Homo sapiens: one gene and its partners. The protein of the gene in region 2 purifies or fractionates together with the protein of the main gene of each other region. This does not show direct contact. Each region holds a gene or a part of one and is shown on either strand. Other genes may lie near its edges. The genes, in order: MTMR14, CHURC1 and ARPC1A.

Evidence for each region.
Region 1: the proteins of CHURC1 (region 2) and MTMR14 purify together in Homo sapiens (affinity purification with mass spectrometry; one large-scale study listed by BioGRID and IntAct). This does not show direct contact.
Region 3: the proteins of CHURC1 (region 2) and ARPC1A purify together in Homo sapiens (affinity purification with mass spectrometry, with the first as the bait; one large-scale study listed by BioGRID). This does not show direct contact.

The regions. Positions count from the first base shown.
Region 1 is NC_000003.12:9,666,429-9,670,077, reverse strand, and holds part of MTMR14 (phosphatidylinositol-3,5-bisphosphate 3-phosphatase MTMR14), read right to left. Parts: intron 1,360-3,649; coding exon 1,284-1,359; intron 647-1,283; coding exon 586-646; intron 1-585. UniProt on the Homo sapiens protein: Lipid phosphatase that specifically dephosphorylates the D-3 position of phosphatidylinositol 3-phosphate and phosphatidylinositol 3,5-bisphosphate, generating phosphatidylinositol and phosphatidylinositol 5-phosphate.
Region 2 is NC_000014.9:64,920,847-64,924,495, forward strand, and holds part of CHURC1 (protein Churchill), read left to right. Parts: intron 1-3,144; coding exon 3,145-3,280; intron 3,281-3,649. Other genes in the region: CHURC1-FNTB protein, read left to right, coding at 3,145-3,280. UniProt on the Homo sapiens protein: Transcriptional activator that mediates FGF signaling during neural development. Plays a role in the regulation of cell movement.
Region 3 is NC_000007.14:99,324,610-99,328,838, forward strand, and holds the start of ARPC1A (actin-related protein 2/3 complex subunit 1A), read left to right. Parts: upstream 1-1,288; 5' UTR 1,289-1,395; intron 1,396-4,229. UniProt on the Homo sapiens protein: Probably functions as a component of the Arp2/3 complex which is involved in regulation of actin polymerization and together with an activating nucleation-promoting factor (NPF) mediates the formation of branched actin networks.

The DNA of each region.
Region 1 (3,649 bases), on a different chromosome or scaffold from region 2:
AAACATTTGGAAAGCGGATAGCAAGAGTGTGAACCAGCCCATTTCCTCCTTTTATAGGGACTCAAACTCCTGTTCTGTACCAAGCTCTTCTTATGTGTAGTACCAATCATGCAGCTGTGACACATCTGGTCTCCAAATGTGCCTTCCAGGCTAGACCTCATGTCTCCTATGTATGGACTGTAGCCCTTGCCCTGTGCCTCAGTACCAGCTGTACTGGGTGAGATCTGGCAGGTTGGTAATCAGCATCATAGCTGCAAACTGGCAACTCTGTGGGGCTTTAAAACAAATATAGATGTCTGGGCCCTATCTCGGGCCTGCAGTACCAGGAACCCCAAGAGTGGGATGTTCTCTGTGAATCCAGGTGTGCAGTCAAGATGGGGACAGACTGCTCAGGTATTTGGCTGCTACCCAGTGGACTTCAACAGCCATATTTCAGGGGCACAGACTTGGCAGACAGAAGAGGAAGAAGCCAATCCACTCACCTGAACCAGTGACAAATACCCACGGACAATATGAACATGGCCATCTCTGGCCAGACACCCCATCCCCAACACAAGCCCCTGACCACAGCAACCCAGCACTGACCGAAGAGCACAGTCCTCCTCCGTGACGTCCTCCACATCTGCCCAGGCATCATCTGCACCCCCTGCCAGAGAAACCTATCTGTCAGTACTGAGGCTGGTGACCCAGGGCTCCACACAGGGGCCTCCTCACCAGCCTCCTTCCCCATAGTGCCAAGGGTGGGCTGGGACTACATGGCTCTACTCCTAAGGACACAGTATGCCCCCATATGCCTGGTAGTCTTCACCTCTAAGGTGAACTCCTGTTTGTCTCCTGGTCCCTGATCAAAGGAAGGCCCCTGATCTCCACCCAGCTCACTCAGACCCCCTACCTATACTATTGTGGTCATGGGTGGCTATTCTTTTTTTTTTTTTTTTGAGACGGAGTCTCACTCTGTTGCCCAGGCTGGAGTGCAGTGGCGTGATCTCGGCTCACTGCAACCTCCATCTCCCGGGTTCAAGCGATTCTCCTGCCTCAGCCTCCTGAGTAGCTGGGACTACAGGTGTGCATCACCACACCCGGCAAATTTTTGGTATTTTTTAGTAGAGATGGGGTTTCACCGTGTTAGCCAGGATGGTCTCGAACTCCTGACCTCGGGATCCGCTCGCCTTGGCCTCCCAAAGTGTTGAGATTACAGGCGTGAGGCATGGCGCCCGGCCCGGGTAGCTATTCTCTATGACTGGGTTCTCATTCTACATCAGAGGATGCTGTTCAACATTCACCTGAGAAAAAATAGTTGTAGCCTGAGCGTCCATACAGCTCTCCCCATCCAGCCAGTGTGGCCGACCTGCAAATGTGCTGGGAGAGAAACATCATTTTCACGGTCAGATGGTTTTCTGAAGCATGCACAGTTGAAGGAACATGTGGGACTCCTCTGACTCTTCCAGGCCAGCATAACGGGCCCAGGAGCACTCCCCAAAGTTTTATCAGCATCAAGGCTGCCACAATCAGTCAGAAGATCCCTAGTACTTAATCCACAACCTCTACTGAGGGAGTCTCACTCCCAAACAAGAGGCGCCAGTGTTACCAACAGGATCGGATCAGATTGGGTGGTTGTTGCATGTGTACCACGTGCTGGACATGGTACTGAAAAACCCATCATCTTCTCACTGAATTTTACAACAAGCCCATGAGGGATATGTGGCAGGTGGCATGCATTGTTGCTGTTACACAGATGAAGAAAAGAAAAACAGGCTAAGGGAGGTTAAGTGATGTGTAAGGTCATATAATGAGGGGTGAGCTGGGATTTGATCCAAACCCACTGACCTCTATGTGCTTACTGTGATTTGGAACTGTTCAGTGTAGACAGGAACAACCTTTCTAGCGGGGGCAAGGGGTGAGTGAGAAATGTTTTAGAGGCTTCTTTTCCTCATCACTGAAGGGATCACTGTTAAGAGAATTCTAGAAACGGGCAACTGGCACAAACCTCAATATCTAATTGTAAGGTTACTTGTTTAAAATAAATAGTGTTTGCTGAAATCTAGTTGGGTGGGGGGAATGGGAGGAGATACCTGGTGATGGGAAGGCAAACCAGCCCAGAATTTAGCTAAAGGCTAGGAGAACATGACCCTGTTACACTACAATGGGAAATGGCGAAGTTGTGAGGTGACAGACAGGGAGTGAAGCTCACTGCTGAATGGGTAACACAATGTGCAAATGGAAAGTGGATCCCTGGAAGATTGCCAAGTACCATCTGAAGGCTTCTCCATCTCTACCTGTAAGATAATGGGAAGGAAAGTTTTGCTGCTACAGCAAAGAGTTGTGCGTGGGAACGACTAGGTCACTTTCTGGCTCTATCTGAGGTAGCAGCAGACAAGGGGTGGGGACGTGGGGACAGCAATAGAAAAGCTACCTGGATATAACCTGGGACAGAATGAGGGGCATTATTGGTGCTGGGGCAAGAGCTGGTTTGTGGAGAGGCTGTCCTGGAAGCCTACTGAGGAAGCCTACCAAGGGCTGGCATTCCTGCTGGCTTAAGTAGGATGTACTCCAGTGGGGGCCACTTAACTTTCTGTGGGTCTAAAAGCAATTTGAAAATCTGATAAAAAAGTATGAACTATCTCCTGAAAAAAAAAATATGTACACATCATAATCTACTTACATTTCCAGGGATTTCTGGACTCTCTCAAGTCCACTGATGAACCCATTCCCAGACCCCGTTAAAAGCCCTTGCTTTAAGAAGTCAGTCAAGCAGTGAGGAGTAAAGTGGATGCTTCCACAGGAAAGGGCTGAGGACCTCTAAGACTCCAAGACGTTGGCAGGGTGTGTGGCTGCCTGTTCCACTGGCATTTGTATCATATCCACTCTCCCCGCTTCATCTAAGCTGCTGGCAGCTGACCTCACTCTCCTTTGCATTATTTCTGTTAAATCTTTCAGAGCAGATAGCTGCCTTCTTTTTGGCTGTTGAGTTCTGAGACCCTTTTTCTGTTCCCAATTATTCTTCCACATCCCTTCTATTGACCTTGTCTTTTTAGTAATTGAGGCAGCCAGACCTAGGCCAGCAAAACCCGAGTCAGATGGAGAAAAACAAGTTGGCCAAGTCCCCAAGTGGGGAACCAGCCTCTTCAGGAAGGCCCCTGTGGGAGGGCTGACCCCTCTTGATAGACACCTGTTCCTTTGCCTCATGGTTCTGACTCATAACCCATCATCTCTGCCCTTTAAGCTGGCTCCTGACTGAAAACGCAAGATCTACCCTGAATGCTCTCCATTTACCTAGTTAGGAATGGCCTCTAATACGGTCCGTGGAAAAGCACTCTGTATAATTTTCTAATTTAGTAACCTCTGACCTCTGCTCCCCACCTCTTAAACAAAAAGAAAGATGAATTGTTCCAGTTTCAATGGTCTAAAAGCCAGACTCAAGTGTTTGGGGAGAAAATGGTATGAGAACTTACTGTTCAATGCTTGAACTGAGTTTTGAAAAATTATTTAATATACTTTACTTAACCCATCATATCCAAGACATTATGTCAACATGTAATCACTTTTAAAATGAATATTTTACATTTTTTCTATTAAATCTTCAAAATTTGATGTGTATTTTACACTTAAAGCATATCTTAAGTAGGATGTGAAACTTTGGGCATTGGCC
Region 2 (3,649 bases):
CTCCAGTAGACTTTTTTGTAAAGTGTGTAAGCTCATGTTAAAATTTACATGAAACTGAAAAGAACCAAGAATAGCCAGATTATAGGACATAAACTACCTGATTTAAAGACTAACTATAAAAACTATAGTAATCAAGAGAGTTTGATATTAGTGGGAAGGTAGATATATGTATCAAGGGAACAGAATAGTCAAAGCAGACCCACATATATATGGTCATTGACTTTTTTCTACAAAAGCACCATTGTAATTCAGTGGGGGGAAAGACAGTTCTTCAACAAATCTTGCCAAAACAACTGGAAATCCATACGCAACTAAATAAACCTTGATCCTTACCTCATATATAAAATTATTTCAAAATGGATTATAAACCTAAATCTACAAACTAAAAGCTATAAAACTTCTAGAAAAAAATGTAAGAAACTTTGTGCAACCCTGGGGTAGGCAGAGATGTCTTAGGAGAAAAAAAGTATAAATTATAAAAGAAAAAATGTTAAATTGGACTTTATGAAAATCAAAACTTGTTTGCTCATTAGAAGAAACCATCAAAAAAGGCAAATCAATGACGGAGAAAATATATTTGGGAAAAAACTTGTATCTAAGATATATAAAGAACTCTTACAACTCAAAATAAACAACCTAACTTTTTGAAAATGGGCAAAAGACTTGAATGGACATTTCATAAAAGAAGATACATGAATAAGCACCATGAAAAGATGCTCAACATCATTAGTCATCAAGGAAACAAAAGTTAAAACTACAATGAGATACCACTTTACGTCACTGAATGGCAAAAATAAAAAGCAGTACCTAGTATTGATGTAGCTATAGAGCAACTGGAACTCACACATTGCTGGCAGGAATGTAAATTGGAAAACCATTTGGCAGTTTCTTGTAAAGTTAAATATACCATATTTTTACCATATTAGCAATTCCACTTCTACATATTTACCCAAGGGAAAGGAAGACATGTATCCATCCAAGACTTGCACATGAATCTCTATAGCTGCTTTATTCATAATAGCCCCAAATGGAAACAACCCAAATATCTACCAACAGCTGAATCCTACAGGGAATACTATTTGGCAATGAAAAGCAACAAACTACCAGTACCTAGAACAACAGTGATGATGAACATAGGCATTATATCGAGCAAGGAAAATTGGATGCGGGAGTATACTGATTCTGTTTATATAAAATTCTAGAACGTGCAAGACTGGAGATGGAAATCAGATCAGTGGGTGTCTGGGGTGGGATGGAGGTTAGAGATAGACTGAAAAGCATGAAGGAACTTTTTGGGGTGGATAGAAATGTTTTATACCTTCACTAGGGTAGTGGTTACATGGGTATATACATTGGTTAAAAGTCATTCACCTATGTATACCCTTACAGTGTGTGAATTTTATTGTATGTAAATTGTACCTCAGTAGATTTTATTAAAAAAAAAATCAAAGGCTGGGCACAGTGGCTCATTCCTGTAATCCCAGCACTTTGGGAGGCCGAGACGGGCAGATCACGAGGTCAGGAGATCGAGACCATCCTGGCTAGCATAGTGAAACCCCATCTCTACTAAAAATACGAAAAATTAGCAGGGCGTGGTGGCGGGCACCTGTAGTCCCAGCTACTTGGGAAGCTGAAGCAGGAGAATGGCATGAACCTGGGAGGTGGAGCTTGCAGTGAGCCGAGAGTGTGCCACTGCACTTCAGCCTGGGTGACAGAGCGAGACTCCGTCTCAAAAAAAAAAAAAAAAAAAAAAAATCAAAGCAAAGCATTTGTTCTTAATAACTGGAAATGTATACTTTAATCCTAAGGCCCTTTTCCCTTTTAGTAGTTAAGGCAGTACACCTATGATTTAATAACTATGTAGTAATGTCTTGATTTCTCCCACTAGAATTAATGTCTTCCTCAATACATAGAAGGGAGAGATTCCTCAATATATAGAAGGGAGAGATTAATTCTCCCACCAGAATTAATCTCTTCCTCAATACATAGAAGGGAGAGATTAATTCTGGTGCTTGGAATCCAGAAAGACTTCCTAGTGGCATTATTTATGGTGGATCTTAATTTCGCTGATGCTTCTTAAAACTCCTTGAAGGTAGCAACATGTTTGGCTCATCTTTGAATCCTCTGTTGTGCTTTGCACAATATCAGACACAGATGCACTGGAGAAACGTTGATTTGAGTGATTTTTAATCACATTATTTAAAAATACTCTTTAAGTGTGTTGCTGAGAAATGGGATTGGACTAGATTATTTATAAAGTGACTTTTAATTATTAATTATTAGCCTTTAGCAAAGACTTCCTTTGGGTCGGGGACGGTGGCTCACAACTGTAATCCCAATACTTGGGAGGCTGAGGTGGGAAGATCATTTGAGCCCAGGAGTTTGAGACCAGCCTGGGCAACATAGCAAGACCCCATCTCAATTACCAAAAAAAAAAAAAAGGCTTCCTTTGAGCCAGGAGCATAAGTTATTTAGAATTTCTTTTTTAAAAACTTTTTTTGAAAATTTGTATAGTTTCTTAGTAAAGATGTAAAACCCATTCTCTCTTAAATGCCATTGTGTCAGTCTTACGAAATGAAGAACTTAAGCTTCTCTGCCTCAATCATGTGTATCCTTAAGGACTGACATCTATAGAGCTGAGAGTTTACTTTTGTTTATTTTGTATTATGATCAAGGATCAAAACTATTTGAACAAACAACTAAACATCTATGTAAGATCATCTTTATCATTGACTCAGTTTCTATTTTGATTGAATTTAATTTTAGTTGGTAAGCCTCGTTTAATATTGTTGGTTATTAAATTTTTCTAATTTTCTATTTTCATATTTTATATTAAGGTTTCCTTAAGTTGTTTCTAAATATCTATTTTCAGTTTATCCTCCCTTTTCAACATAGTGGCAGTCCTTACAGACTTAAGGATCTAACACTGCACTTTAGTTGCTTTTTTTTTTTTTTTTTTTTTAACATGAGTAACACTTCTTTAGGAAAGCTAGTAATTTCAAAAATTATTTGGTATATGACCTAGAAGTAAATGCTGGCCATTTTTTAGTTTTGTTTTGCCTTTAGACATTTTAAGTCTGTTAATCATCTTCACTAAAGATTTTGAAATGTAAAGAAATTAAATTCCTGTTTCTGATATTTTAGGGTAATACCTGCCTGGAGAATGGATCTTTCTTACTGAACTTTACAGGCTGTGCAGTGTGCAGTAAGCGGGATTTTATGCTGATCACAAACAAATCCTTGAAAGAAGAAGATGGAGAAGAAATAGTTACCTATGATCGTAAGTAGACTTTATTTTTTAACCTGAGTGTGTTAGCAGGTGTCAGCTTTTGGAAGTCGATATGTTACACAAAATATTCTGAGGCCTATTTCAATATTGTATTGCGCACATAATTACTAGTTAGGTCTTTAAGAGGAAAATGTCATTAACACCTCATTTATCTGGGATATCAAATAGTCTATGTAAATGACTTTTGCAGATAACTAAAGCTTACGATTCAGGAACTGAATTTTTTTTGTTTATCAAATTATTTTTCACGGACATATTTTTAAAAGCTTTATGCTGCCTTAACAAGATATACTTTTTATTATTGTTATTATTGTGACCTTAGGGTCATCCATGTGAGTTTTCACTTTTCTGCTACAGTAT
Region 3 (4,229 bases), on a different chromosome or scaffold from region 2:
GGCGACAGAGAAAGGCTCCGTCTCAAAAAGATCACAGCGGGTCTGAAATTGAGAGTTTGACAAGTATACCTACATAAACCTCACCTTACAATACCAAAGGGAAGGAGACAAGCCCTTGGTTGGCCTGGCATGGCGCTGGGCGGCGGCGGGGGGGAGCTCACATCGCTTTGGGAAGCAGAGGCTAGAGGATTGCTTGAGCCCAGGGGTTCAAGACCAGCCTGGACAACATAGGAAAACCTCATCTTTACAAAAAATATAAAAATTAGCCAGGCACAGTGGCTCACACCTGTAATCTGAGGGCTTTGAGAGGCCAAAGAGGGACGATCGCTTGAGCCCAGGAGTTCAAGACCAGCCTAAGCAACACAGCAAGACCCTGTCTCTACCAAAAAATAAAAATTAGCCAGGCGTGGTGGTGTGCACTTGTAGTCCCAGCTCCACGGGGGGCTGAGGCGGGAGGATCGCTTGAGCCCAGGGGTTCCAGGCTGCAGTTAGCTATGATCGCGCCACTGCACTCCAGCCTGGGCTACAGGTTGAGAACCTGTCTAAAAAAAAAGAAAAAAGAAAAGCTCTCGATTAGCCCCATCTGTGGGGGCTGGGGATGCTCCAGAATTTCTAGGGTTCAAGGGCAGCAGCCTGATTGCAGGTGGGGATCAGGGCATTTCTTGGAGGCTGCATCTGCGGGGCAGGCTCTGTCCTCTGTGAATTGGGGGCCTTGCCAAGTTCCCCCAACCCTTTTATCCCTGCTGCGCCATCTTGGGAGCAGGGAACTGCTTGGGAGCAGGGGATTCTGTCCCAGGAAGGGTCGAGAAAGTTCCTGGGGGGCTTCAGGGGCTTTCCACAGAGGGAGCACGGCGGGGGCGGAGGCTCCCTGCAGGGAGCAGCGCTGAGGTAGACTGGCTCTGACCTTGGCTCTCTGAAGGGAGAAAAACTTAATCGTTCTTCAGGTCCAAGAGCTCCAAAGACCCCCAATCCTCAGTAACTCATCTCCTGACAAAAGACCTTGCGAAACTGCCAAAGCGCCACACTTCGGCTCGCGATTGTGAGGAAATTGGTTGAGGAACGGAGTGGGACGCCCATGCCGCTTCGCCAGCACTTGCCAGGCGTTCCGTGGGGCAGCATCTCCTCTGAAGGGCCGCCGACAGTACCACGCCAATGGAACGGCGTACCCTCCTCCACTGCAGCCTGCCTAACCCCGGACTGCGCGCCCGAGCTGTGCGCATGCGCGGACCGTCCGCGCGGTCGCAACGCGCAGGCGCCGTGTCCACTTCCGGGATCTGTCAGCCGCTCCCTCTGGGCTTCCGTCCTCCGCCCGCGCCCGACGGAGCCTGTTCGCGTCGACTGCCCAGAGTCCGCGAATCCTCCGCTCCGAGCCCGTCCGGACTCCCCCGATCCCAGGTAACGGCCAGCAGGGGCGAGCGTCTCACCCTGTCGGCCTCTCTTGTCCAGGCCTGGCGCCGGACTTGCCGCGGGGGCAGTGAGACGGGGGCTCAGGCCGCGGGGCCCCGAGGCTGAGGCGCGGCCGGGTCTCCCTGCCGGGGCCTCCTGAGGGGGCGGGGATCCCCTTTCTCCGTGGATCCCCTGCAGCTTTTCTCAGGATGTTCGAGCTCCTAGCCGCCTCCGATGCCCGAATTAACGGCCCCTTCTGCGCCCCCAGGGTCCTACTTGCACCTCTGCTGGGGGCATTTGTCACCGTCTCTAAAATTGTGTCAAGTAGGAGGATCTCCCGTAATCGAGCGACCCGCGGGACTATTCATCTCTTTAGTGTCTAGAGTCGATCCCTGCATACAGTAGGCGCCCATAGGATGTTTGCCTGCTCTCTAGGGCAGCCCTCAATCCTTCGGTTAATGGGGAACCTTCTCGATCTCGAGAAAAACCTTCTCCCGAGTTCTTTTAAGATTTCCCTGCATGAGTACCGCCTTCCCCCAAGTCAAAATTGCACCCTTCTCGGCGCTCTTATTCATTTAGTGGAATCTTTTATGCCAGTCCTGGCACCACCACTTTGTTGAGTGATCCTGGGAAGATGCTTCTCTGCGCCTGTTTCCTCATCTGCAATAAAAAGATTCTTACCGTTTTGCTAAGAATCAAGTGAGCTTATTTGCATAAATTGCTTAGAATAGTTCCTGGCCGAGAGTAGGTGATCAATAAATATTAGCTATTATTACTGCTTCTGGGCATTCTATGCATATCCGTCTTCCTTTCCTTTTCTATCTCCTCCACTCTCCCCAAACACCAACCCTCCAGACTTGAAGACCAGAATGGTGTCAGCCTTATTTATGTTTCTAGCCCCATCCCGGTATTTACAACACTGCTGGGAACATGATAGGCACTTAATCAGTTATAGCTTAGAATCTTTGATTATAAAGCCATCTGTTCTCCTGCAGCTTTGGAACCTTCTGTCTATGTCAACTCGTAGCTTAAATTGCCGAGATTATCTTAGTTCTGCCCTCTCTCCTCAATTTTATCTAGTCTTGTGGTTTCACATAGGGCCTGGGTTTTCAGGTATCTAAAAACAGAGGAGGGGCATCAGTCAGGAAGGTGTTTTTGTCCTGTTAGGGAGTGGGTAACTGTGGTTGTTGTCTTCCTTTTTTTTTTTTTTCCTGCAGCCTCGACCTCCTGGGCTTAACAGATCCTCCCACCTCAGCCTCCTGAGTAGCTGGGACTACAGGCGTGTGCCACCACACTGGGCTAATTTTCATTTATTTTTATTTACTTATTTTTGGAGATAGAGTCTCACTCTGTCACCCAGACTGGAGTGCAGTGGTGTGATCTTGGCTCACTGCAACCTCCACCTCCTGGGTTCAAGCGATTCTCCTGCCTCAGCCTCCCGAGTAGCTGTGACTACAGGCATGAGCCACTGCGCCTGGCTAATTTTTTTTTTTTTTTTGTATTTTTTGTAAAGACAGGGTCTCCATATGTGGCCCAAGCTGGTCTGGAGCTCCTAAGCTCAAGCTATCCTCCCACCTCGACCTCCCAAAGTGCTGGGATTTTGGGTGTGAGACACCACACCCAGCTTATATGGCTATTTTCTCCCACAAAGTATTCAGAGATCTTCTGGAGTTCATCTGTTAATCACAGTTAAAGGAAGGGACCATTTCGGAAAACTCCTATTTTGGACGCGGAGTGGTGATACTTTGATCTAGTTGTCTCATCCAATGCTGAAACAAATCCTATATAAAGAAGTTTAAAATGGTCTGCTGGTGAGGCTGGTGCCTGGACTGGAGCCTGTCTGAATGTTGAGGAGGGTGTGGTGACCTTGTTGGAGTACTTGATGTTGCTAGATTGGCTAATGAGAGTGATTAGGAACTAGGTGAATCACGGTCTTGAAAACTGACCCTAAACAGGGGACAGAAATGCCCACTTTTGTGGGCATTTTCAAGCTCCAAAGGAGTAGGGCCAAGAATTTATAGCATATGTCAACGTTTCCAAGCTCAGAGGAAACTAACTGGTGGGTTCTATGGTTGGTTTAAAAGCCTTGAGTTGGCCAGGTGCAGTGGCTCACGCCTGTAATCCCAACACTTTGAGAGGCTGAGGCGGGTGGATCACCAAGGTCAGGAGTTTGAGACCAGCCTGACCAACATGGAGAAACCCCGTCTCTACTAAAAATACAAAATTAGCCAGGCATGGTGGCACGTGCCTGTAATCCCAGCTACTCAGGAGGCTGAGGCTGGAGAATCGCTTGAACCCGGGAGACGGAGGTTGCGGTGAGCTGAGATCACACCATTTCACTCCAGCCTAGGCAACAAGAGCAAAACTCCATTTAAAAAATAGAAAAGCCTTGGGTCAAAGGGAGAAAGGGAACCTGCTGGCATGTATTTCAGGCTAGGCTCTGTACTACTTGCTTTCACATGTCTCATTTAATTCTCCTTGTGATCTCAGTGGTATATCCACTTTACAGAAGAAAAAAATGAGATTTAGAGATATCAAGTGACTTGCCCAGGGTTTCATAGCTAGTGTGTGTCAAAAGCCAGGGTTCAAACCCAGCCTCGGCTTCAGAGCCCATGGCTAGCCATACATCAGAATGACTCTGTACTCAGTGATAGATAAAGAAAAGGGGTGGGGGCCGGGCATGGTGGCTCATGCTTGCAATCTTAACACTTTGGGAGGCTGAAGTGGGCAGATCACTTGAGCCCAGGAGTTTGAGACCAGCCTGGACAACATAGGGAGACCCCTGTCTTTACAAAAAACTAAAAAATTAGCAGGGCATAGTGATGCATGCCTGTGGTCCCAGC